Linked DNA regions of Homo sapiens. The protein of the gene in region 2 purifies or fractionates together with the protein of the main gene of each other region. This does not show direct contact. Each region holds a gene or a part of one and is shown on either strand. Other genes may lie near its edges.

The links.
Region 1: the proteins of DYRK1B (region 2) and FAM53C purify together in Homo sapiens (affinity purification with mass spectrometry; 5 studies listed by BioGRID and IntAct, with this or other methods). This does not show direct contact.
Region 3: the proteins of DYRK1B (region 2) and FAM117B purify together in Homo sapiens (affinity purification with mass spectrometry; 4 studies listed by BioGRID and IntAct, with this or other methods). This does not show direct contact.

The regions. Positions count from the first base shown.
Region 1 is NC_000005.10:138,340,536-138,348,265, forward strand, and holds part of FAM53C (protein FAM53C), read left to right. Parts: intron 1-648; 5' UTR 649-681; coding exon of another isoform or gene 682-729; 5' UTR 730-800; coding exon 801-878; intron 879-1,273; coding exon 1,274-1,331; intron 1,332-4,289; coding exon 4,290-5,074; intron 5,075-6,166; coding exon 6,167-6,424; 3' UTR 6,425-7,730.
Region 2 is NC_000019.10:39,831,022-39,839,984, reverse strand, and holds the start of DYRK1B (dual specificity tyrosine-phosphorylation-regulated kinase 1B), read left to right. Parts: upstream 1-5,822; 5' UTR 5,823-5,962; intron 5,963-6,336; exon of another isoform or gene 6,337-6,639; coding exon of another isoform or gene 6,640-6,718; intron 6,719-6,805; exon of another isoform or gene 6,806-7,013; intron 7,014-8,016; coding exon of another isoform or gene 8,017-8,117; coding exon 8,118-8,180; intron 8,181-8,963. Other genes in the region: FBL (rRNA 2'-O-methyltransferase fibrillarin), read left to right, coding at 780-950, 2,142-2,274, 3,317-3,429, 5,172-5,317, 5,423-5,447.
Region 3 is NC_000002.12:202,637,239-202,644,968, forward strand, and holds part of FAM117B (protein FAM117B), read left to right. Parts: intron 1-7,730.

The DNA of each region.
Region 1 (7,730 bases), on a different chromosome or scaffold from region 2:
GCTAAAAACTTAGTTGAACAGTCATGGAGTTGTTGTTTACGACGTCTGTAGAGTTGAAATGTATTGGAATTACCCTGACCATTTCTTTATCTTCCCATTTGATAAGAAAACAAACACTGTATCTATTGGAAAACAATAATATATCAGATGTTTAGGCTGTGGGAGGACATAAAATCCTATGTACTCAGGTCTAAAGCAGAAAGTCTTGCCTACAACCACTGTTCTTCCTTGTTCTCTTATTACTATTTCTGTAGTTTAGGAGAAGGGTACCTCTTTTCACTTCTGACTGGAAGATAAAATACTGGGCTGATCTTGATGGAAATAATCATTTGGGCATCCCTCTCTCTCACTTGAGCAGCTGTTTTCTAAGTGGTGCTGGTATTCCAGTTAGAAACAACAGAGCATGAACCAGTTTAAGGGTAGCAAATAAGTTTCAACTTGATTGCCAACTCTATTTTATTTCATATCTGGACTGCCAAGTTCATAATTTCTGAAGCTGTGTTTAGGCTTAGCTGGAAAGAGCTGTGATCAATTGATGTCTGCCAGAGGCCTGGCTTAGGGGTGCTGTGGTATGTGTGCCATGCATTTTCCATCTCTGGACCAGGTGCATCTCTAATATCACTTGGGGCTGGTCCCTCTAATTGGCAGACTCAGCAGGCATGACTGGAGAGGGAAGTCCCAATGGTGCTAGAATGGTGCTGCAGTGGCAGAAGACGGCTCACAAGTGAGGTCTGGAAGAACAACAGGGAAGACATCCATCATTTGCTCCAAAGTGTGCAAGTCAAATCCTGGGGAGAATCATGATAACCCTGATCACTGAGCAGCTACAGAAGCAGACTCTGGATGAGCTGAAATGCACACGCTTCAGCATCAGTCTGGTAAAAGACCAGTCTTCCTGCTTCTCCACGACCCCCTCCCCCTTTTTTCTGAGGCTGATTGTTGCTATTACTTTACTCTTGTCCTGTGCTGTATGAATCATGGTACTTAACCTGGAAGAGCCCACTAATGGCTCAAAACCCAGCCCAAAAGGAAGGGGGCAGGGATTTTTCCACCGATAGAGAAGGGACAGCAAAACTTGGGTGGAGAAGGGTTTGAGATGTTGGAAGATGTGGATTGTTTGACTTACTAACTTTGGGAAGACAAGAGGAAGAACACTTAATGTCCCTAACATCCCTGTAGCTCATGAATCGCAGAGGAGAACTGAAGAGGGCTTCCTAGAAATCTGTCAGTGTGTCCTGAATCCAAATCATGATGGATATTCTCTCTTTCTTAGCCTTTGCCTGATCATGCAGACATCTCCAACTGTGGGAACTCTTTCCAGCTTGTGTCTGGTAAGGCATCGTGTGTGTTTGTGTACGTGTGTGTACCCATTCCTCTCTCCACACATTTCTATCATTGGTTTCCAGTGACCAGGGCTAGCGAGCCTACCTCTAGAACCTTCTTGCCAGGGTCAACTTCTGAGATTGACAGTTGTCTTTCATGTTCTAGCATGAAAGTTATCTGGTTGGTTTGCTCTTATTCTAGCTTTGTGGGGACTTGTATAATCTAATTTTTTGAATAGGTAATACATTCACATGGTTCAAAATTTAAAAAATAACAACAAAAAGGTTATGCTGAGAAAAGTCTCTCTTACTCTCCCGTTCCCTATCTACCCAGCTTCTACCACCTCCCTAAAAGTATTAGTTTCTTATACAGTATATGTGACTAGAATTTCTTTATATAAAAAGAAGCAAATGTATATATTTATTTCCTTTCTTTTTTAAGTTCTCGGATACATGTGCAGAACGTGCAGGTTCGTTACATAGGTGTACATGTGCCATGGTGGTTAGCTGCATCTATTTTATTTCCACGTTTTTAACACAAAAGGTTGCATACTATATATTATTTTGTACCTTTAAAAAAAAAAATGGGACCGGGCCTAGTGGGTCACACCTATAATCCCAGCACTTTGGGAGGCCAAGGTGGGCAGATCACCTGAGGTCGGGAGTTCAAGACCAGCCTGACCAACATGGAGAAACCCCATCTCTACTAAAAATATAAAATTAGCCAGGCGTCGTGGCGCATGCCTGTAATCCCAGCTACTCGGGAGGCTGAGGCAGGAGAATCACTTGAACCCAGGAGGTAGAGGTTGCGGTGAGCCAAGATTGCGCCATTGCACTCTAGCCTGGGCAACAAGAGCAAAACTCTGTCTCAAAAAAAAAAAAAAATTGCTGGGCACAGTGGCTCATGCCTGTAATCCTAGCACTTTGGGAGGCCGAGGTGGGCGGATCATGAGGTCAGGAGTTCGAGACCAGCCTGGCCAACACAGTGAAACCCTGTCTCTACTAAAAATACAAAAATTAGCCTGGCATGGTGGTACACACCTGTAATCCCAGCTACTCGGGAGGGCAAGGCAGGAGAATCACTTGAACCCAGGAGGTGGAGGTTGTGGTGAGCCCAGATCATGCCACTGCACTCCAGCCTGCACAACAAAGCAAGACTCCATCTCAAAAAAAAAAAAAACAAAAAACAAAAAAAACTTTAATATAGCTAGGAGATCTTTCCCTATCAGAATGCTGAGTATTCATTCCCTTGTTATATATAGCTACATATTATTACACTGCATAGATGTACAGTGGCTTATTTAATGAGTTTTCTATTGATGTGCATTTAGGTTATTTCTAATCTTGTTTGGATACATAAAACTGTAGTGGGCCAGACGTGGTGACTCATGCCTGTAATCCCAGCACTTTGGGAGGCCGAGGTGGGCAGATAGCATGAAGCCAGGAGTTCGAGACCAGCCTGGCCAGCATGGTGAAACCCCGTCTCTATTAAAAATACAAAAATTAGCTGGGCATGGTGGCAGGCGCCTGTAATCCCAGCTACTCAGGAGGCTGAGGCAGGAGAATCCCTGGAATCCAGGAGGCGGAGGTTGCAGTGAGCCGAGATCGCACCCACTGCACTCCAGCTTGGGCAACAGAGCGAGATTCCATCTCAAAAAAAAAAAAAAGAAAGAAAAAAGAAACTGTAGTGAATAACCTTGTACATATGTCATTTTTTCACATGTGAAAATATATCTGAGGTATAAATTCGTAGATTATTAATTACTGAGTTAAAGGGCCCCTGATCGTAGGGACATTTAGATGGAGGCATCACTGGTGGACAATCAGAACTCCCTAACTCGTGCTGCTCAGCAGTTCTGCATCTCATTTTCTTTTCTGGGATACCTAGCAAGGGAAGTGAGTTGGCAAAAACATGTTCATTCAGTCTCTTCCTCCTGTTTATTAAAGACTTGCTGAAAGCCAGGTATTGTGTCATAAGTATAGAGCAGGAACTCATGGTCCCTGCCCTCATAGTGGTTAGTAGAGGGAAGAACTATAGACCAAATACACTCAGTATGAATTTTGCCACCATCAAGTCTGACTTCGTATACTTGTCGTTTGCCCCAAATATCCAGCCCCTGCAGAATTCCAGCCAGCTAGCCAGAGGAGTTTGGATTAGGCCCTTTGTCCCTTAATGAGCCGTCTCCCAAAAGTCACAATTTTGGTTGGAATACAGTGAGTGAGGATTGTTTCTTTTAGTCCATTTTCCCTTCCTTCTCTTGGTCCCTCCATCTGTTTGGATTTAAGAGAAGGCCTAGGGGAAGGGAATCGGAATATGTGGGTGGCCAGACAGAAACGAAGATGAGCAGCACAAAGTCAGGGTTTCCCAAGCCCAGGTTTCACTGTCAAAGGCCTTCCCCACCCTGTTTGCCCTCCCTAGGAATAAAAGTGATCTCTTACCTGCCTGATTACCTCTTACTTCTTGGCAGTCCTAACTCCTGACTTGGTGCTGTTGACACATGAGAGGAGGAAAGGCCGAGAAAGAAGAGCATAGGCCTGCTTTTCAGCATCCAGGGCAAGCGTGGGGGAGGGGCGAGGGAGAGATGAGCAGGACACTCACAAACGTGTTTGTTTCTCTTGACTTCTTTTACCTTTGAGAGGGAGTGGCAGGCAGTAGATGAAATGTTTTTGATTCCAGGTAGTTGGTCACAATGGAGGCAATAGAGCATAGTGGTTTAAAAACCTAGCCTTCGCATCAGACAGACCTGGATTTGAATCCTCCTTTGGTCTTTTGAGTGCTATGTGATTTTGGGAAAGTTATTGAATTTCTCTTATCTGTGAAATGGGGATAATGATAACGATACTACCTACCTCATAAGGTTTTTGGAAATTTTCACATAAAATGCTCCATACATTATGTGGCAAATGGTAAGTTCTTAAAAAATGTAAGCTATCATTAATATTATTCTTATTATAAATGCCTTCCAGAAGGTGCTTCCTGGAGGGGCCTGCCCCACTGTTCCTGTGCTGAGTTCCAGGACAGCCTCAACTTCAGCTACCATCCCTCAGGCCTGAGCCTGCACCTCAGACCACCCAGTCGGGGAAACTCCCCCAAGGAGCAGCCCTTCTCCCAAGTCCTAAGACCTGAGCCCCCAGATCCAGAGAAGCTTCCTGTGCCCCCTGCCCCTCCATCCAAGAGGCACTGCCGCTCACTCTCAGTGCCCGTGGACCTGTCTCGCTGGCAGCCGGTGTGGCGGCCCGCCCCCTCCAAGCTGTGGACTCCCATAAAGCACCGGGGCAGTGGTGGAGGGGGTGGGCCGCAGGTGCCTCACCAGAGCCCCCCAAAGCGGGTCTCCAGCCTCAGGTTCCTCCAAGCTCCCAGTGCCTCTTCTCAATGTGCCCCAGCTCACAGACCCTACAGCCCTCCTTTCTTCAGCCTGGCCCTGGCCCAAGATTCCTCTCGACCCTGCGCCGCCTCCCCTCAAAGTGGCTCCTGGGAGAGTGATGCTGAGTCCTTGTCACCTTGCCCACCTCAGCGCCGCTTCTCCCTGTCACCCAGTCTGGGCCCGCAGGCAAGCCGCTTCTTGCCCTCTGCCCGGAGCTCTCCCGCATCCTCCCCAGAGCTGCCCTGGCGACCTCGAGGTCTCCGCAACCTTCCCCGAAGCCGCTCACAGCCTTGTGATCTGGATGCCCGCAAAACTGGGGTCAAGCGGCGCCACGAGGAAGACCCCCGGCGTCTGCGGCCTTCGTTGGACTTTGACAAGATGAATCAGGTGGGACCAGCAAGACTAGGGGAGCTTAGATGGGAGTGTGGGGACTGTTCTGTTTCCACTTTTGAGCTAGCCCCTAGCTTCATTACCCTGCCGCCCCCACCACCAACAGCACCTCCTTTAGCTCTTAGCTAGGGTGACCTACCATCCCAGTTTGCCTGGGACTGTCCCAGTGTTAGCACTGAAAGTCCCCCCATCCTGTGAAATGCCTTAATCCTGGGAGTTAGAGAAACTGGGGTGAGACCCATGTTAAACCTTCCAACAGAGATCCCAAATTGTCCTGCAAGAGGTACTTTCCCTCCTTTCCAAGAATGCACAAGCTGCAAAAAATTCCATCAGTACCTACTCCTTGTGCCCAAAGCTGTTTTTGCCACTTGCCTGTCACTGCTTCAAAGTGGGTCTGTGAGGGCTGAAGCAAGATGGGCTGCTACAGTGTATTCATCTGTTAGACAAATGTTTTTTGACTTCCTGGTGTGAGTACAATTATTGTATGTATGCACTTTGCTCACTTTTTTCATATTATTCTTTCTAGACCACTAGGTTACAAACCTCTTTAAGAATTAATTAATTTTTTCATACAGTCGTCCATCCCATCTGCAAACATTTACTGACTCTGACTAGGCACTGGCAGTACAAAGTAATGAAACACTGCAGATGATGTTCCTGCCCTCACGGAGCTTCTATTCTTCAATTCAATGGAAACAATGGGCTCCAAATTTTGTCAGAAAGTTTACAAACGCCAGGCATGGTGGCTAACGCCTGTAATCCCAGCACTTTGGGAGGCCAAGGCAGGCGGATCATGAGGTCAGGAGATTGAGACCATCCTGGCTAACACGGTGAAACCTCGTCTCTACTAAAAATATAAAAAATTAGCCGGGCGTGGGCCGGGCACCTGTAGTCCCAGCTACTGGGGAGGCTGAGGCAGGAGAATGGCGTGAACCCGGGAGGCAGAGCTTGCAGTGAGCCAAGATCACGCCACTGCACTCCAGCCAGGGTGACAGAGTGAGACTCCGTCTCAAAAAAAAAAAGTTTACAAACCTCACCCTAAAGAATTCTTGCCTTCAGGTGTAACTGTCTTCTTTGTTTGTTTGACAGAAACCATACTCAGGAGGTCTTTGTCTCCAAGAAACAGCCCGGGAAGGCAGCAGCATCTCTCCACCATGGTTCATGGCCTGTAGCCCCCCACCCCTCTCTGCTTCCTGCAGCCCCACTGGGGGTTCCTCCCAGGTGCTGAGTGAAAGCGAAGAGGAGGAGGAGGGGGCTGTGCGGTGGGGTCGGCAGGCGCTGAGCAAGCGGACACTGTGCCAGCGGGACTTTGGGGACCTGGACTTGAATTTGATTGAGGAAAACTAAAACTGAGAGGCTACTTCCTGGGGCCACACAGACTGACTCTCTCATGGCTACTAACAAGTGTCGAGTCCCCAAGGCTGGGGGCCGAGCCTGGGAATGGGGGTGAGTGGAGGGCTCCGACTCAGGGCAGCTGGAAATCTTCTCGCTCCAGCAAGCTCGACCATGCCAAGAGACTGGCCGGGACAAGATAAACGGAGCTGGTGGCGGGAGGGACAGCCCCAGAGCAGACCCTTCCTATGGCGGCCCTGAGTGTGAGTATCCCTGCCACCAAGAGAGCAATGGGCAGGGAAGGAAGGGGTCTGCCGACCCCAGCTCGGGGAATTTCACTAGCCCCTTTGCTTCAAAGGGCACTTGTGTCTTAGAATTTGGCCAGGGTGGGGGGTTGAGTCAGCCTCCTCAGAGAAACTGCGTGAGAGTGTGTGCGTGCATGGGAGTGTACTTGTGGAAAGGTGTGTTTGCGTAGCCTTAGGGAAGGAAGGCAATTGCTCCTTAACAGCAGAGTATCATGATACCCCCAGGATCTTGAGTTTTTTACAGGATGTTGGGTTTGCTCAAGGAGTCAAGAGGAGGGCACCAAGTTTTCCTTTTTTCTAAATAGCTCTGGAACCAGGCTTGTAATCCATAGCATCACCGACTCTGCAAAGGATTTCATTTTGGGGTACAGCAGGGTGTTTTAAGTGCTGTGACTTCAGCTAATGATCTTTTCTTCAGCCCCACCCCCTCCCCACTAGCTCGATCTAGTATATTGGGGAATGCAGGTGGGGGGTGTCACCATATTTTTTCTGAGCTGGCCTTTTTTTCTCATCAGATTGTCCAGGCTATATTCCACCTGCCTCTTTTGCCCTCTTGAGTAGAGTTGCACACAGCACATGGGCAACTGAAGCAGGGTTGAGGGGCTCTCTCTCTCTCTCCTCTGCTGATGGGACCCTTTTCCCCTCACCCTCTGCCCTTCTAAGTCATAGACTAGGTAGGAAGGCCCTATATTGGTCCCCAGCATCTACTGAGGCAGACCTGCAACAGAAGTGGCATTCAGTCCCCAGCAGACATGGGTGAGCTCACCCCAGCACTGCTGTTGGGAAGGTGACTGCAGGAAACCAATTCTTACAAGATCCAGGCCCAGCCTTTTTGACCTGCTTGAGAGGGAAGAAGGGGTGTTTAGCATTTAATAGTTTGCTTGTCTTCCACTCCTGCCAGGAAGTGTTTATTTGCCTCTAATTGGGCCTGAGAGACCATAGGGAGGTTGGGGCTCACTGAGGGATTGGCTGAGGATGTATAAAGCAAAGGCTGTGAGAAGCAGTTGGGAGTTTGG
Region 2 (8,963 bases):
TCTCCTTCACTAACTCTCTGACCAAGTGTCCTCCAGCCACCCTGGCCTTGCTGTTCCCACTCCCAGCTCTGTGGGAGGCTGCGTCCTTATCATCTGCTTCTCCAGGCTGCGTCACACCACTCTGCGGGTCAAGGCATCCCTCACCGCCCTCCCCTGTCCTGTTATCCTGTGTCATTTTCTTTGAGGCCAGGGTGTGCCTGCCTTGGGGCCTTCCTAATCGCTCTCCCTCTCGTGGGAATGTCCTTCCTCAGATAACTTGAATGGCCCCTTGCCTCCTTCAGGTCTGATTTGGAATCTGCCTTTCAGCCCCTCCCTGGCCCCTTTTCCCATTTTCACCTGCTCCTTGCCCTGCTTCCCAAACTCCGTATCTTCTCTCCTGGCTTTGTCTTCTCTCCTTAACACCTGTCACCATCTCATATGCCATGTTGTATTTAGTTAGTTCGGTGAATACTTACACCTTCTGGGCAGGGATCCTTGTTTTGTATCCCCAGCGCCTAGAGCAGGGTCTGGCACACAGTAGGTGCTGGCACAGTGCATGTTTGTTGAACAAGTGCTGGTTTTACTGTTACTGTTTGTGTTTATTCTCTTTTGCTGCCCTTTGGGTCAGTCACCTCCATGAGAGGGCAGCGACTGCATGTGCATGGTCACTGCTCTTTACTCATGTTGAGTTCTTGTGCAGTGATAGGACAGCCCAGTTCCTTTCAAGGCTCCTAGGGTTAAAGGCAGTGAGGTCCTGCAGAAGAGCCTAGCACTGACTTCTGTCCCCATCTCTCATCTAGGAAGGAGATGACAAAATTGAGTACCGAGCCTGGAACCCCTTCCGCTCCAAGCTAGCAGCAGCAATCCTGGGTGGTGTGGACCAGATCCACATCAAACCGGGGGCTAAGGTTCTCTACCTCGGGGCTGCCTCGGGCACCACGGTCTCCCATGTCTCTGACATCGTTGGTCCGGTGAGTGAGTAGATGGAGAGTCAGGCAGGAGGTAAAGGCTGCCTCCCTTCTGCCAACCTGGAATATCAGGGTTTGACTGCTTGCCTGCGCTGTGTGACTTAGGGCCAGGCCCTTTTCTGTCACTGTGCCTGTGAGTAAAAGGAGTGGCTTGAACCAGATAATGTCATTCAACCTCACTCCTGGGTTCTTGGCCTCAAGGGAAGAGACGTGGGTGTGGGGTGACCAACCTTAGAGAGACAACGGGGAGTATAGATACCAGACTATTTGATTTGATGGGCCTCTTTAAAATTTTATGCTGCTAAAACCTGCTCTTCTGGTTTCTTTAGAAAGAACCAGGAGATCTTCATGGTTTCTGAGCCTGTATAGGCTTCCCATTTAGAGGGCCCCTGGCACCCACGTGTCCCACTCTGTTACCCTTTGTTACTTTATGTGTTTATAAGCTGTTAAGTGTAGTGCCTTAAAACCTCAGGCTTTGGCCAGACGAGGTGGCTCATGCCTTTAATCTCAACACTTTCGGAGGCCGAGGCAGGTGGATCACCTGAGGTCAGGAGTTCGAGACCAGCCTGACCAATATGGTAAAACCCCATCTCTACTAAAAATACAAAAATTAGCTGGGTGTGGTGACGTGTGCCTGTAGTCCCACCTACTTGGGAGGCTGAGACAGGAGAATTGCTTGAACCCAGGAGGCGGACGTTGCACTAAGCTGAGATCGCACAACTGCACTCCATCCTGGGCAACAGAGTGAGACTCAAAAAAAAAAAAAAAAAAAACCTCAGGCTTTAATCAGGCAAGTTACCTAACCCATCCAAGCCTCAGTTTACCTGTCTGGAACATAGACTTGTGAAGATTAAATGAGTTAATTTCTGAAAGGTGCTTAGAGCAGTGGTTGGCCCATTGTTACATCATCTCTGTGCCTTGGCTTCCTGGTTTTAAGCCTCTGTTGGGAACCTGGGCTCTCAGGCAGATGGGATTGGGTACTTTTGCTACTTGCTGAATAACTCTTGGCCAGTGACTTTATGTCTGGACCTCAGTTTATTCATGTGAAAAATGGACATGATAGCAATAGTCATTAGATGGTAGGGTTTTGATTTGGGGGTTGGAAGAGATGCTGTGTATAGTGTATGGGCCTAAAGTAGGCACTCCATGCATGAGAACTAGCATCACTGTTCATTAATTTTTAATTTATTTTAGGATGGTCTAGTCTATGCAGTCGAGTTCTCCCACCGCTCTGGCCGTGACCTCATTAACTTGGCCAAGAAGAGGACCAACATCATTCCTGTGATCGAGGATGCTCGACACCCACACAAATACCGCATGCTCATCGGTGAGGGGTCTGGGGGTGGCCCCGGTGGGGTAGGACAGGCCACCGCAGGCTTCTGGAAGAAGCCAGTGGATCTCTGATTCGGATGGAGTTGGAGTGGATGAGCAGACCTCTTGAGTCTGCAGGAATAGAAAGGGGTAAGGGGAGCTAGGTGAGGTTGTGGAGGTGGCAGCTTGGCTTCAGAGTCTTGGAAGCCACCCTTGGAGGGCCAACCTCTTCTCCTTCAGTCTCCTCCCCATCTCCTAGGTCTCCTGTACTTCCTGCCTCTTGTATTTATTACACTACCCCTCCATAAAAAGCCTCCTTTTGGGGGTCCTAATCATTGTCTGGTGAGAGCATATCCCAGAAAACTAAGCATGGCTTGATCTGGAGGGGCCCACTGTGAATATTAATTACTTTGTTTAAAAAAACATTCAAAGATATAATATAAAAGTTGAAAAGCCTTATAAACCACCGCCAGAAGTAACTGATGAGAACAATTTGATGTCTGCTTTTCCCAGGTTTTAAATAATCAGTTTTCATTATACCACCTTTTCATTTTTTGAAAAGTCACACTGGCTTAAAAACATTATTTTTCATTCTGCTCCTTTTTCTTTCTGTGTTTTATTTTTCCCATGCACTCATACCATCCCCTTTGTTCTGCAACTTGTTTTCATTTCACAGTCCTGCGGACACTCTTGCCTATAAGTGCTCACTCACTCTTACTTGTCTTTTTGATGACGTGTCTGTCTCCCCACCAGACCTGGGAGCGTCTCGAGGGCAGGGTCCGGGTCTGACTCGTCTCTATGTCCCCCACGCCCGGCCCAGGGCTGGCCACAGAGTAGGTGGCAACCATGGTTTACAAGAAGAGTGGATGAATGATGTGACTGTGGGTTTTGGACTCATCTTGGGACACTGGAGGGAGGGGGACCAGTGGAGGTGGGGAGTGAAACTGGAGGCAGGGAGAATCTCCCAGGAACCTGCTGGTGATGGGCATAGGCCCCATGGGAGGATCTGGGGTGATCCCTGTGACTCCAACTTTTAACTGCTGCTCCTTTCTCCTTAGCAATGGTGGATGTGATCTTTGCTGATGTGGCCCAGCCAGACCAGACCCGGATTGTGGCCCTGAATGCCCACACCTTCCTGCGTAATGGAGGACACTTTGTGATTTCCATTAAGGTGCGGGGTTTGGAAGAGTCTAAGATGGGGTGGCAGTGTTCTAGGGAGGTATCTTCTCTATCTGTATCTGTCAAATAGCCACCCAAAACAGAGGGGCCAAGTCTGCAAAACTATAGCTTTGGATTTAAAGAGGCAGGAGAGTGCAGCGGTCAAGTGCAAAATTGAGTCTGACCATCTGAGTTTAATCCCAGCCTGCTGTGTGACTGAGCAAGTTACTTAACCTATATGCCTCAGTTTCCTCACTTATGAAATAGAAATATTGTCTAGTCTTTTTCAGGGTAGATGACAGGATCAAATTAGTCAATATAATATGAAGTGTTTAGAAAAGATCCTGGCATAGAATAGATACTAGATAAAAGCTAGGTGCATCTTTCACAGCATTTTTATTTGGAAATAATGGAGAACTCTCCCATGCACCCTTCACAAGGTTCACCATTTGTTAGCCTTTTGCTACATTTGTTTTATTATTCTCAACTGCATTATTACTATTATTAAAGAAGAGGAAGTAGAAATAAGCCAAACAATTCCTGGGTATAAAATTTAAGCACTGGCTTTTAGATAAATAGGACTGTTTAAGGCTTCCTGCTTCAAATCCAAAACAAAACTAAAAACTTTTTTTTTTTTTAATTTGAGACAGAGTCTCGCTCTGTCACCAAGGCTGGCGTGAAGTGGTGCAATCTCAGCTCACTGCAACCTCTGCCTCCCAGGTTCAAGCAATTCTTCTGCCTCAGCCTCCTAAGTAGCTGGGACTACAGGCGTGTGCCACCACACCTGGCTAACTTTTATATTTTTAGTGGAGACGGGGTTTTGCCATGTTGCTCAGGCTGCTCTGGAGCTCCTGAGCTCAGGCAATCTGCCTGTCTCAGGCTCCCAAAGTGCTAGGATTACAGGCACGAGCCACTGCACCCAGCCAAAAACTTTCATTAAGCCTTTTATCACATTTCCTAAACCCGAGTGTCTTAGCCCATTTTATGCAGCTATCACAGAATGCTATAGACTGGGTAATTTATTTATTTTTATTTTTATTTTTATTTTTTTGAGATGGAGTCTTACTCTGTCACCAGGTTGGAGTGCAGTGGTACGATCTCGGCTCACTGCAACCTCCAGTTCCTGGGTTCAAGCGATTCTCCTGCGTCAGCTTCCCGAGTAGGTGGGACTACAGGTGTGCGCCACCACACCCGACTAATTTTTGTATTTTTAGTAGAGATAGGGTTTCACCGTGTTGGCCAGGATGGTCTCAATCTCCTGATTTCGTGATTGAGCCACCTCGGCCTCCCAAAGTGCTGGGATTACAGGCGTGAGCCACCACGCCCAGCCTTAGACTGGGTAATTTATAATGAATGGAAATTTATTTGGCTCCCAGTTCCAAAGGCTGGAAAGTCCAAGATTGGAGGTCTGAATCTGGCGAGGGCCTTCTTGCTGTCATCCATTGGCAGAAGGGTGAGAGCAAGATAGAAAGGGGGCATAATCATCCTTTTAATCAGCAACCCACTCTTGTGATAATAGCATTACTCTATTCAGGAAGGCAGAGGCCTCATGACCTGAATCATCTCTCGAAGGTCCCACCTCTCAACTCTTGCATTTAAGGGTTACGTTTCCAACACATGAACTTTGGGGGACACACTAGAACCATAGCACTGAGTTTTACTTGAATTAATAATGAAAACATCTGGTTTAAAGAGCACACAAGAGAAAAACAGCCCAAAGCCCTGTTGTAGACATTAGTCCTTTCTCCTCTTTAGGCCAACTGCATTGACTCCACAGCCTCAGCCGAGGCCGTGTTTGCCTCCGAAGTGAAAAAGATGCAACAGGAGAACATGAAGCCGCAGGAGCAGTTGACCCTTGAGCCATATGAAAGAGACCATGCCGTGGTCGTGGGAGTGTACAGGTGAGCAGGGGCCCAGCAATACACCAAGACAGACATCTCTGTCCCTTGCACCCCGAGTGCCATGATCCTGGGGACCCTCCTTCATCACCTATCTTCCTCTCACAGGCCACCCCCCAAGGTGAAGAACTGAAGTTCAGCGCTGTCAGGATTGCGAGAGATGTGTGTTGATACTGTTGCACGTGTGTTTTTCTATTAAAAGACTCATCCGTCTCCCATGTCTGCTGCTCATTCCTCCCCTTGACCTGCTGACACAGGGAGCACGCACCCTTGGTCAATTTTGCGGGGTTGGGTAAATTCTCACTCGGTCACAGAGCGCATGCTCCGTTTCTAGCTGCCTTTGCGCAGCGGCAGCCTGGATTTCGGTTCTTGGGTGGGATTGGTAGCTCGCTGCGCATGCGTGCAGGTAAGCGGCCATCTCGCGCAGGCGGAGTGTCAGTGTGGGTCACGTGAGGGGAGCGGAGAGGGAGGGATGGGGGCGGAGTCCAGGGCGTGGGGGGGCCGGTTTGTTGTGGTCGCCATTTTGCTGGTTGCATTACTGGGTAATCGGGGCCCTGGCTTGCCGCGTCCGCCGGATACCCTCAGCCAGTGGGCAGGTCTGAGCTCGGGCTCCCCGAGCAGTTTGAGTCCCCTTGCCCGCTCCTTCAGGTAACGGCGCGGGGACGGGTGGGGCGGCAAGCGGTCGCAGGGAGGTGGGCAGGACGGGATCCGCCCTGCTCCCGTCGCCGTGAGACTTAGCACGAGGCCAAGGGAGGAGAGGAGGGGGGTGGCAGGCAGGTGCGGGCCCTGCCTGGCTATTCATAGTTGAATTCCTGGAACCGGCCAAGCCCGAGGAAGCAGTTGCAGGAGGGAGGCTGGGAGGGGGTAGCCGGGCCCCACTCCCGCCCTTTGTTTGGGCTCAGCTCCGCGGGCCGCTTCTTCGTCGCCTAGCAACAGCTGCCCTAGGCTGTGATTGGCTGAGCTCTTGGCACCAGCGACCAATGGTACAGTTGTTGCCATGGCAGGTGCCGATTGCCAAGCTCAGTCGGGCCCCGCCTTCCGGTCTCAGCAGGCCCAGGAGGGCCTCCTGGGTGGGGGGCGGGACGCCGGGTCCCTAGGGGCTGGTGGTCACTCAGGGTGGGGCGTGTCGCCCCTCCCCCGTCCACCTGCTCTACTCTTCCCCCGCGTGCCCTGGGCTGACCCTTGTCCCCTCCTCTCCCCGCCCCCGGTGGCAGTGGCGGCTGCTGTTGTCACCCACCGGGCCTCCTGTCCCGCTTGCCCTCCCCGCCGCGGGGCCGGCCGGGCCAGAGACAGGCGGTCGCCTTTTCAGCGCCGCCACCGCCGCCATGCTGGCCGCTCGCCCACCCCACTGGGGGCCCCACCGCGCCCCAGCCCCCCGTGGGCCCCGCGCCAGCCCTGACCCGGGTAGGGGGTGGGGGCTGGGAGAGATGATCCTGGTGTGGGAGGGCCCCGGAGAAGAGGTGGTTTTTTGGGGGAAGCTCCAAGGGTGGAGGAGTCGTGGAGTGGCAAGGCATGGAATAGGAGAAAGGGATTTGACATGGGGGAGAGAGTGGCCCATGGGGAGAAGATTTTTGCTGTAGCTGACAACTCTGGGAGGAGAGAACCCTATGTGATAACTTGGGGATTTGACTTTGAGGCCCTCTAGGAGTGGACACAGTTGTGGAATGACCCTGGTATAAAGAGGGGTGCCTGGAGAAAGGTCTGTGGTAGGAATATTAGGGTGTGTGTGTGTGTGTAGGGGGGCAAGGAAGCAGTGTAGGGGAGAAAAGGATGATCACTCTAAACTGTGGGAAGAGACACCTCCTCCTTCTCCCATCAGGAGGAGTGGGCCTTGATTGGGATGGGATATTGGAGTAATATGGGGAAGAACCCTGTTGTGGTAGGGGGAATTGGGATATGGTACAGGGAGACTACCTGGAAGGCTGGTTCCTAATATGGAGGACCTGAAATAGGGAAGCGGTCTTGGCATGATATGGAGAGGGTCCCCTAGGAAAATCGTGCCCTGGTGGATGAGAATGCTGTAGAGATAGGACTCTGTTCTATAGAGGTTCTCAGATAACTTTGGTGTGGTTGGGAGGTCCCCAAGGACGCTGATGTGGTTTTAGGGCTGCAGAGGACTCTGCTGTGGTTTGGGAGGGGAAGACTCATGTGGTTTGGGAATCCTAGAGTTCTCTGGGTTGAGGGAATCTACTGAGAAGGATAGATCTTAAAGTATTGGCCCTGGCTGTGCTACGGGCTGAGATCCTGATGTTCAGGGAAGACTACAGAAAGTGGCATCTTGTGTTAGGGGCCCTGGGGAGGGCCACGAGTAGTGAGAAAAGAATGAAGCCTACTCCTCTGCATACTGTCTGTGGTTTCTTTTTTCTTTTCCTCCTCTGAATTATTGGTGTCTTCCTGTCCTCCTTTCCCTGTGATGGCTCATATCGACCCCTGCTTGGCCCCCAATCATTGTCTTTTATGTGTTCTCTTTGTGCTGCCTTAATCATTTACTTGATCATTATTTGTCGAGGGACTGCTGTGCCATCCCCCCCCACCTGGCTACCACTTCTCTGCCCCTTCTCTTCATTGCTATCTGCTGCTCCGTTGTGCCCTTTTCCTCTTCTCTCTGTGCCCTGTCTTTCTCATGTCCACTCTTCCCCGCCTGGCACTATTCACATATCCCCTTGTTCCATGTTGTTTTCCCACTTCCTGTCTGCTCTCAGGTCTCAGCGGCGGTGGCAGCCGAGGTGCAGGATGCAAGAAGGCGCCCCCCGGCCGGGCTCCCGCTCCAGGCCTCGCTCCCCTGCGGCCCTCTGAGCCCACCATGGCCGTCCCACCGGGCCATGGTCCCTTCTCTGGCTTCCCAGGGCCCCAGGAGCACACGCAGGTACGCGTTCAGCTGGCTCCTCACCTGCGTGGTGGTAGGGGGAGGCTGGGGATAGAAAGGTCTCCAGACCAAAAGGTAGTGTGGTTGCCCAAGACATTCTTCTGGGCACATAATGGGTCCCATGGGATTGGAAAATAACAGAGGAGTTTTCAGGCAGAGTCAGGGTTTGGAGAGGCTGGGTTCAAATCCTGACCCAGTGGTTAAATTCCTTAGGTTCTCCATACTTGAGTTGGAGAACTCAACTCATTCTGTGAAATGGGGCCAATAATGATACCTACTTCACAGGGTTGTTGTGAGGATTAAATGAGTTAATGGTATGCATGTAAAACACTTAGAATGGTGCCTGGCACATAGTAAATACCCAATAAATGCTACTAAGAAAAGTTCAGAGTGAAAGATCTGGATTGGGTGAATTTGGAGGGGGGTTGAGTCTAAAGGGTCTTGAGGCCAACAGGCATGGGTGGTGAGGGCAAAGCTCTCCCAAGGCTAGAGGCAGTGAAGGCAGTGACATGCAGAGCTTGAAGCAGGATGAAGTGGGAGGTCCAGGGGCCAGATCCAGATCCAAGAGCCTTGGGGTGAAAGAACTGTGCAAAGAGTTGGTGGGAGTATGGGTTGAGGCCCAAGGGATGAGGGTAAATTGAGATAGAGGTACTTCAGAGGGTACCCAAAATGGCTGGCTTCAAAGTGAAGAATGGGGAGGAACAGAGCCCAGGTTTTCCATATGATCTCTCCCTCTGAGGTTCAGAAAGGAGTAAAGGTGAGGGGTGAAAGGTCAGAGTTCAC
Region 3 (7,730 bases), on a different chromosome or scaffold from region 2:
ATGTATTTATTTTTATTTATATTTTTATTTATTTTTTGAGACGGAGTCTTGCTCAGCTGCCCAGGCTGGAGTGCAGTTATGTGATCTCGGCTCACTGCAACCATGGTCTCCTGGGTTCAAGCGATTCTCCTATCTCAGCCTCCCGAGTAGCTGGGATTACAGGCACCCGCCATCATGCCCGGCTAATTTTTGTATTTTAGTAGAGATGGGGTTTCACCATGTTTGCCAGGATGGTTTGGAACTCCTGACCTTATGTGATCTGCCCGCCTTGGCCTCCCAAAGTGCTAGGATTGCCCAGCCCAGAGCACTATTTTAAACCTTTTGAGAATGCAGAATGCTTTTCTAAAACTGTGATAAAAGTACTAGATTTCCCCTCCCTGCTTCATAACCTCTGTCACCTACTGAACTCTTACTATTTGGCAGGTGGTTTTTATGCAAAATCTCATTTAACCCTCACTATAGCTTTTAGAGAGGTTAAGTAACAAGTGGCAGAGTTGGTATTTATTTGAACTTTGGTCAGTTGTACTCCAAAGACCATGTCTTTATATTATATCAAGGAAGTGACATCATGATGTGTAAGATAGAATGTGGGAAATATATAGCACACCAAAATTACATGTACTTAGTTAGGTAACTTTTTTTTTTTTTTTTTTTTTAAGATGGAGTCTCACTCTGTCACCTAGGCTGGAGTGCAATGGGGCAATCTTGGCTCACTGCAACCTCTGCCTCCCGGGTTCAAGCGATGCTCCTGCCTCAGCCTCCCGAGTAGCTGGGATTACAGGCATGCGCTACCACGCCTGGCTAATTTTGTGTTTTTAGTAGATACAGGGTTTCTCCACATTCGTCAGGCTGGTCTCAAGCTCCCAACCTCAGGTGACCTGCCGACCTCGGCCTCCCCAAAGTGCTGGGATTACAGGCATGAGCTACCGCGCCCAGCCACTAGTTAAGTAACTCTTACAGATATGAACAAAACTGCTTCAGTCCTTCAGCCTTCTGGAGCCAGCATAGTGCATCAGGTGGAAGGGAAGGAGCTGGCTTATAAGTGGGCAGTAGAGGTGGCAGAAGGAGGCACAGCCTGTAGTCTGATAACAGAATCTGGCTCTCTTAACAACTGTTTGACACTCAGAGAAACACCCTGAGGAGAACTGGGTTGAATTAAGTATTGGCAAGGTGTGGAGGAAGGTACTCTTTTTCTCTGATCTCTAGGAGGGCTCTATTTCCTGGGATGTCAGGCTACTCCCATGTCCTCTCTTCATGGTTTTTGAACGCTCCCCTTCCCTAGATCATCCCGTAGAGTATTTGCTGTAAAATTATCCCCATTTGCTCCCCTATCAAAATAAATAAATAAATAAATAAATCCAGAAAAATAAAAACTCTTATTTCTCAAAGTGTAGTCTGTGGTTTATCTGTATCAGAATTAGGGTGTGTGGTATAATAAAAAATAATTTGGCCAGGCGCGGTGGCTCACAGGGGTAATCCCAGCACTTTGGGAGGCCGAGGCGGTGGATCACCTGAGGTCAGGTTTAATACCTGTGTTCCGCCAACTAGAAAAATAAAAACTCTTATTTTTCTAGTGCAGCACTTTCACTTGGGTGTGAGAAATATTGTCTGTTATTAAGTCATACTCTAGTTTGAATGTCTCATAGTTTCATTCCCAGGAATTGTTGTTTCACTCTAGTAAATATCCATGCAGAGTAGAACAAAGTGTTTTCAGATTTCAGGTGTTCATAACACACACAAAACTACGATGAAATCATTTGCTGTTTTTATCTGACTAAATCTGGAAGGAAAGTCTTTGTAAACGTCAGAGTCCCTTTTTCATTAAAGGGAGGCTACCACCAGTTTGCAGCTGTGATGAATGTAAAAATCCCTACCGTAAAGGGTAAGGGTCTACCCCATATAATTCTATAAACCTCATAGGACTCAAATTTCAGGGTCCATCTAGATCAGGCTGTTGACTTCTAGGTGTCTTATCAGATGAACTGGATGCTGTAACCTTTGTTAGGGATCCGGTATCTCAGAGTCCCTAAGTTGAAGGTATCAAGATCCCTATCCAGTTGCTTTATTCTTCTAGGGTTAGAGCTAATTGGCTGGTGTAGAACTTCCTACTCTTGACTACTATAAAGTAATCCAAGCACCCATCCCTGACAGATATTTTAAACTTCCCACCTTCAGTGACTGTCATCTCCATAGCAAAGCCGTTTGTCATTAGGAACTGAGGTATGTTTAGAAAAGGTACCTAGGCAACAGTGTTAACCAGAAAGTTTATTTTTGTGCCTTCTCTCCTTTTACCCAACTTCATTTTACTTATTAAAATGTCAAATAGATTACAAATGGAGAGATGGTATAACATCGAGGTGAGGAGGATATACTTTGGGTAGACAGTTTGAGTTTAATACCTGTGTTCTGCCAACTAGAAGCCATGTGATATGGAAAGTTATTTTTCTTATCTGTGAAATGGGTGGTGAAATCTACTTCATATGATAGTAGGGATTAAATAAGGGAAAACTGAAAAACAGCACAGTACCTCAGTATAAAAGTTAGCTGTTGTGTATCATATTAGTTTTGCTTCTAGTTTTAGTGTATTTAACATAAATTACCAGTGTAGGTTCAGTTTTCATGGTTGTATGAAGTTTCAAATTGGTGATAACATTGCCTGTGAACATCCAGAATGGTGTTTCTCAAAGTGTAGTCTGTGGTTCATCTGTATCAGAATTACTTAGGGTGTGTGGTATAATAAAAAAAATTTGGTCGGGCACGGTGGCTTATACCTGTAATCCCAGCATTTTGGGAGGCCAAGGTGGGTGGATGACCTGAGGTCAGGAGTTCGAGACCAGCCTGCCCAACATGGCGAAACCCTGTCTCTACTAAAAATACAAAAAATTAGACAGGTGTGGTGGCAGGCGCCTATAATCCCAGCTACCGGGGAGGCAGAGGCAGGAGAATCACTTGAACCCAGAAGGTGGAGGTTGCAGTGAGCCGAGATTGTGCCACTGCACTCCAGCCTGAGCAACAAGAGCAAAACTCCGTCACAACAACCACCACCACCACCACAAAATATATATATATATATATATATATATATATATATATATATATATATATGGCAAGTCGTGTTCTTGCTAGTTTCCCCCTTCCTTTGGATGTATTAAGTTGTGTATAAATTCGTTTGTTTATTGGAGTTGGGGAGTGCCAAGGGCAGCAAAAAGTGATAACTTCTTTGGACTAATAGGCAGAATCAAGAAGCAAGATAACCAGAACTTATATTTGTGTCATCTTTGATGTCTACTTTCTAGTACCTTATGAAATATGTCTCTAAGAATTTAGTGTTTCTCTAACATTTGGAGGATTGCTGCTAACATTACACATTCAAGGGAATTCTTTTTTTTTTTGGAGACTGGGTCTCTGTCACCCAGGCTGGAGTGTAGTGGCACGATCTCGGCTCACTGCAACCTCTGCCTCCGGGGTTCGGGTAATTCTCCCGCCTTAGCTTCCCGAGTAGCTGGGACTACAGGTACATGCCACTATGCCCAGCTAATTTTCTGTATTTTGGGTAGAGACTGGGTTTCACCATGTTGCCCAGGGTGCTCTCCAACTCCTGAGCTCAAGCTATCTGCCTGCCTCAGCCCCCCAAAGTGCTGGGATTAGAGGCACGAGTCACCCACACCCGGCTAAAGGGAATTCTTTTGGTTTGTGATGTCTATATTTTGCAATGAAGATGAGACAAAGTAGAAACTATTAGTTTTATGTCTTGGCTAGTAGAATTTACATTTAATTAAGTTAAATTCTGTAAGCTTTGATTGAACTACTCTGTGTTATTAACAGTGTAATACAAAGATGTAAAACACACAAGGAATTCCAGAGACTCACAAACTAGCCATGTAAGACAGATACATAAGCATATAATGTGATGAGTTTTCTGGCTTAGAGAGTGAATAATTCCACAGGGGATGGGTATAGAGGTTCCCTCAGAGGAGATGAATTTTGAATTGGATTACAAAGGGAAGAACAGAACTTTGCAGTTGGATCTTAGAGGTGTGAAAATAAGCCTATCATATTCAGTTCTTTGTGGCTTGAAATGTAGGGTAATAGGGTGTTGGGATGGGGAGAGCGGAAATAGTAGAGAAAGAAGGGAGAGACGTAAGTTTTCAGAATGACTTTGAATAGAATATATACATTAGAAAGTATTCCATGGTTAATAGTATGTACTCTGGAGCCAGACTGTCAGGGTTCAGACCCTGGAGTTGCCATTTACTTGCTAGCAGTTTAACTTTAGGCAAGTTCACTTTACTTGTAAAAAGGGGATACTAATGATACTTACCGTAGATAATTGTTTCAAGGAATAAAATCTTTGTAATCTGTGTGTGGGGTATAGGAATCTCAATATTAGATATTTTATTTTCTTTTTTTTTTTTTTTGAGATGGAGTTTCACTCTTGTTGCCCAGACTGGAGTGCAATGGCAGATCTTGGCTCATTGTAACCTCCGCCTCCTGGGTTCAAGCGATTCTCCTGCCTCAACCTCCTGAGTAGCTGGGATTACAGGCGCCTGCCACCACGCCCAGCTAACTTTTGTATTTTTAGTAGAGACAGGGTTTCACTATGTTGGCCAGGCTGGTCTCGAACTCCTGACCTCAGGCGGTCCATCCGCCTCGGCCTCCCAAAGTGCTGAGATTACAGGCATGAGCCACCGCGCCTGGCAGATATTTTCTTTTTTTTTTTTTTTATCGGAGTCTTACTCTGTCGCCCAGGCTGGAGTGCAGTGGTGTGATCTCGGCTTACTGCAACCTCCGCCTCCCAGGTTCAAGCCATTCTCCTGCCTCAGCCTCCTGAGTAGCTGGACTACAGCCGTGTGCCACCATGCCCGGCTGATTTTTGTACTTTTTTTTTTTTTTTTTAGTAGAGACGGGATTTCACCATATTGGACAGGCTGGTCCTGAACTCCTGACCTCGTGATCTGTCCGCCTCGGCCTCCCAAAGTGCTGGGATTGCAAGCGTGAGCCACCACGCCCAGCCAGATATTTTCACATCATTGTCTTCCTTCTCATCCAAGGCTTTAGGCACTCACAGTTATTATTACTAGTATTTATATTCTTAGAATAAATAGAATATATATATATATATATATAAAATGAGTAGAGTGTGACTTGAGATAGGAGAAACTCACAAAGGCATTGATCACCTGAATTTTGGGGGAATGGCAGTGGGAATGGCAAGAGTAAAAAAGATTGAAAAGACTGATTTGGCAAACTGTTGGATGTAGGGATTGAGAAACGGGGAGTTGAGGGTGATAGTTTGGATGGTGGTTCTAATTGATAACAGTGAGGAGAACAGATTTGGGAAAAGAAAATGAACTCAGTTGTGGATGTATTTGGTTTGTGCTCTCAGGAACTTCAGATAATTTTCTAGATTGTGGCAAATAACATTTTAAAACTCAGGGATACACTTTGAACTTGGGGGTAAAAATTAGGACTCATTTATTGCAGTTCAGTAAACATTCATTTAACATGTACATCATGCTAGGCATTTACATGTGGGCAACACTCGAAATGACTAATCACTAGGGTGGATAAAATGATAGGGAAAATGCTGAAGATAGAACTCTGGGAGGAAACAAGCATTTTTAAGGGTAGAAAGAAAAGCCAGTGAAGAAACCTGTGAAATGTGGTAGGAGGAGAAATGGTAGAATAGTGTTGAGAAAGCCGAAAAGAAAGATTGTATTTCAAGGAGAGATAGGAAAGATTTTCAAATGTCGTGAAGTAGGCTGAGCCTGGAGAATAGGCCTTTGAATCTGGCATGTAGATTAGTCAATGATCTGTGAGAGAAAGTAGTTTGAGAAGCATGTTGGGGGCACAAATCAAAGTGGAGGATGAGGAAGTAGAGGTAATGAGTATAAAGTACTTTAATGTGGACGGAAGGAAAGTGAAAAAACTGGGTGAAGGGTGTGCTTAAGCTTCAGTTATTTACAGGATGTGGAAAACTTCAGCTTGTTTATAGCTTTTAGGGAAAGGATTTATAGAATGAAAGATTGTAAATTCAAGAGAAGATGGTAAATGTAGATGGAGCAAGGTTATGGAAAATGCGAGAGGCATGGGATCCAGTACATGGTAGAGTCTGGAAATCTCAGAAACAAGGACATTTTTTTCTCTGAGGAGGGGAAGAGGTAAGGGCGTAGGTTAAGATGATAGGTAAATCAGCAGTAGAAGGGAAGGAAGTTGAGAAAGTAAGCTACTTCCTTTTCCAAACTACTTGAAGGCAAAAATAGCATGCTTGTCTTTATACTATATTTTTAAATTTAAATTTATTTTTTTAAACTACGTGTGCATAATTTAAAATGTCAAATAGCACTGAACTTATTATCAAATAAAATGTTCCCTTGTCACATCTTTCTCCACTCCCTCTTCCTGCCCCCTAGAAACAACCACTTTCAACTCTTAGAGGTTTCTTTGGCTGTTTACCTACACATTTCTTTTTCTTTCTTTCTTTTTTTTGAGACAGAGTCTCGCTCTGTCACCCAGGCTGGAGTGCAATGTCAGGATCTCAGCTCACTGCAACCTCTGCCTCTTGGGTTCAAGCAATTCTTATGCCTCAGCCTCCTGAGTAGCTGGGATTGTAGGTGTGTAGCACCATTCCCTGCTAATTTTTGTATTTTTAGTAGAGGCAGGGTTTCCCCGTGTTGGCCAGGCTGGTCTCGAACTCCTGGCCTCAAGTGATCCACCCGCCTTGGCCTCCCAAAATGCTGGAATTACAGGCGTGAGCCACCGTGCCTGGCCTACACATTTCTAAATAATATGCTATACTACTGCTTTAGGAGCTGTTTTTTTTTTGTTTTTTTTTTTTTTTTTTTTCAGTTTTATGTATTATGTAGTGACTTGCTACTGTGGAAAATGTACACTTAATTCTCTAATCACCATCCTACCGAATCCTTCCATTGTAGGTGTAGCATCTTTTGGTTAAATCAGTATTAATGTTATTATGACCATGTAAATATTGATTACAGTAGAGCCTTGTTGGATACTACAGTTATATTTTCTTTTTAAATAACTTTTTGTGGTCTTTGAGGTTAAAATTGTTTTTCATTTTGATTGCTTCGTTTTCTATGTACCTATCACAAATTTATCCCTAAGAAAGTTTTGATAATGGAAACTTCCTGTAAATAATTAAAAACATAGCAGAGAGTTACTTTTGTTTATTTTCCTTGGAGATATGTCTTTTGGAGTCCCTCATCCTCATATTCCAAATTAGCTCATTGATCTCTACATCTGTGGCACAGCTATTAGAACCGGGAACTTCCCTGGGAATTCTCTTCACTTCTCTCCTGTTTTGGATACTCTAATTTCTGGATGTTGTTTTGCTGGAGTGCATTTTCCAATAATTTTTTGAGAGAGGATACATGGGAGGTATATGTTATACCCAGACCTTGAATATCTTCAGTGATGTCTTTATACTTGCCGGTTTGACTGGGTATAGAATTAGAATTGTAGGTTGGAAATAATTTTTCCACTGGGTATTGAAAGCACTTCATCTTCTAGCTTTTGGAATTGCTGTTGAGAATTTGGATGCCATTCTGATTCTTAATCCTTTGTTGGTGATGGTGTCTGTCCTCTGTGGAAGGGTTACCACCATTCTGAAATGAGGATTGCCTTGTTGTGAGGTGTTTCATTGTTTGTTTTCTGTTCACTGTGCTGGTTACTCTGTGGGCTTTTTCAGTCTAGAGACTATTTCTGGGAAT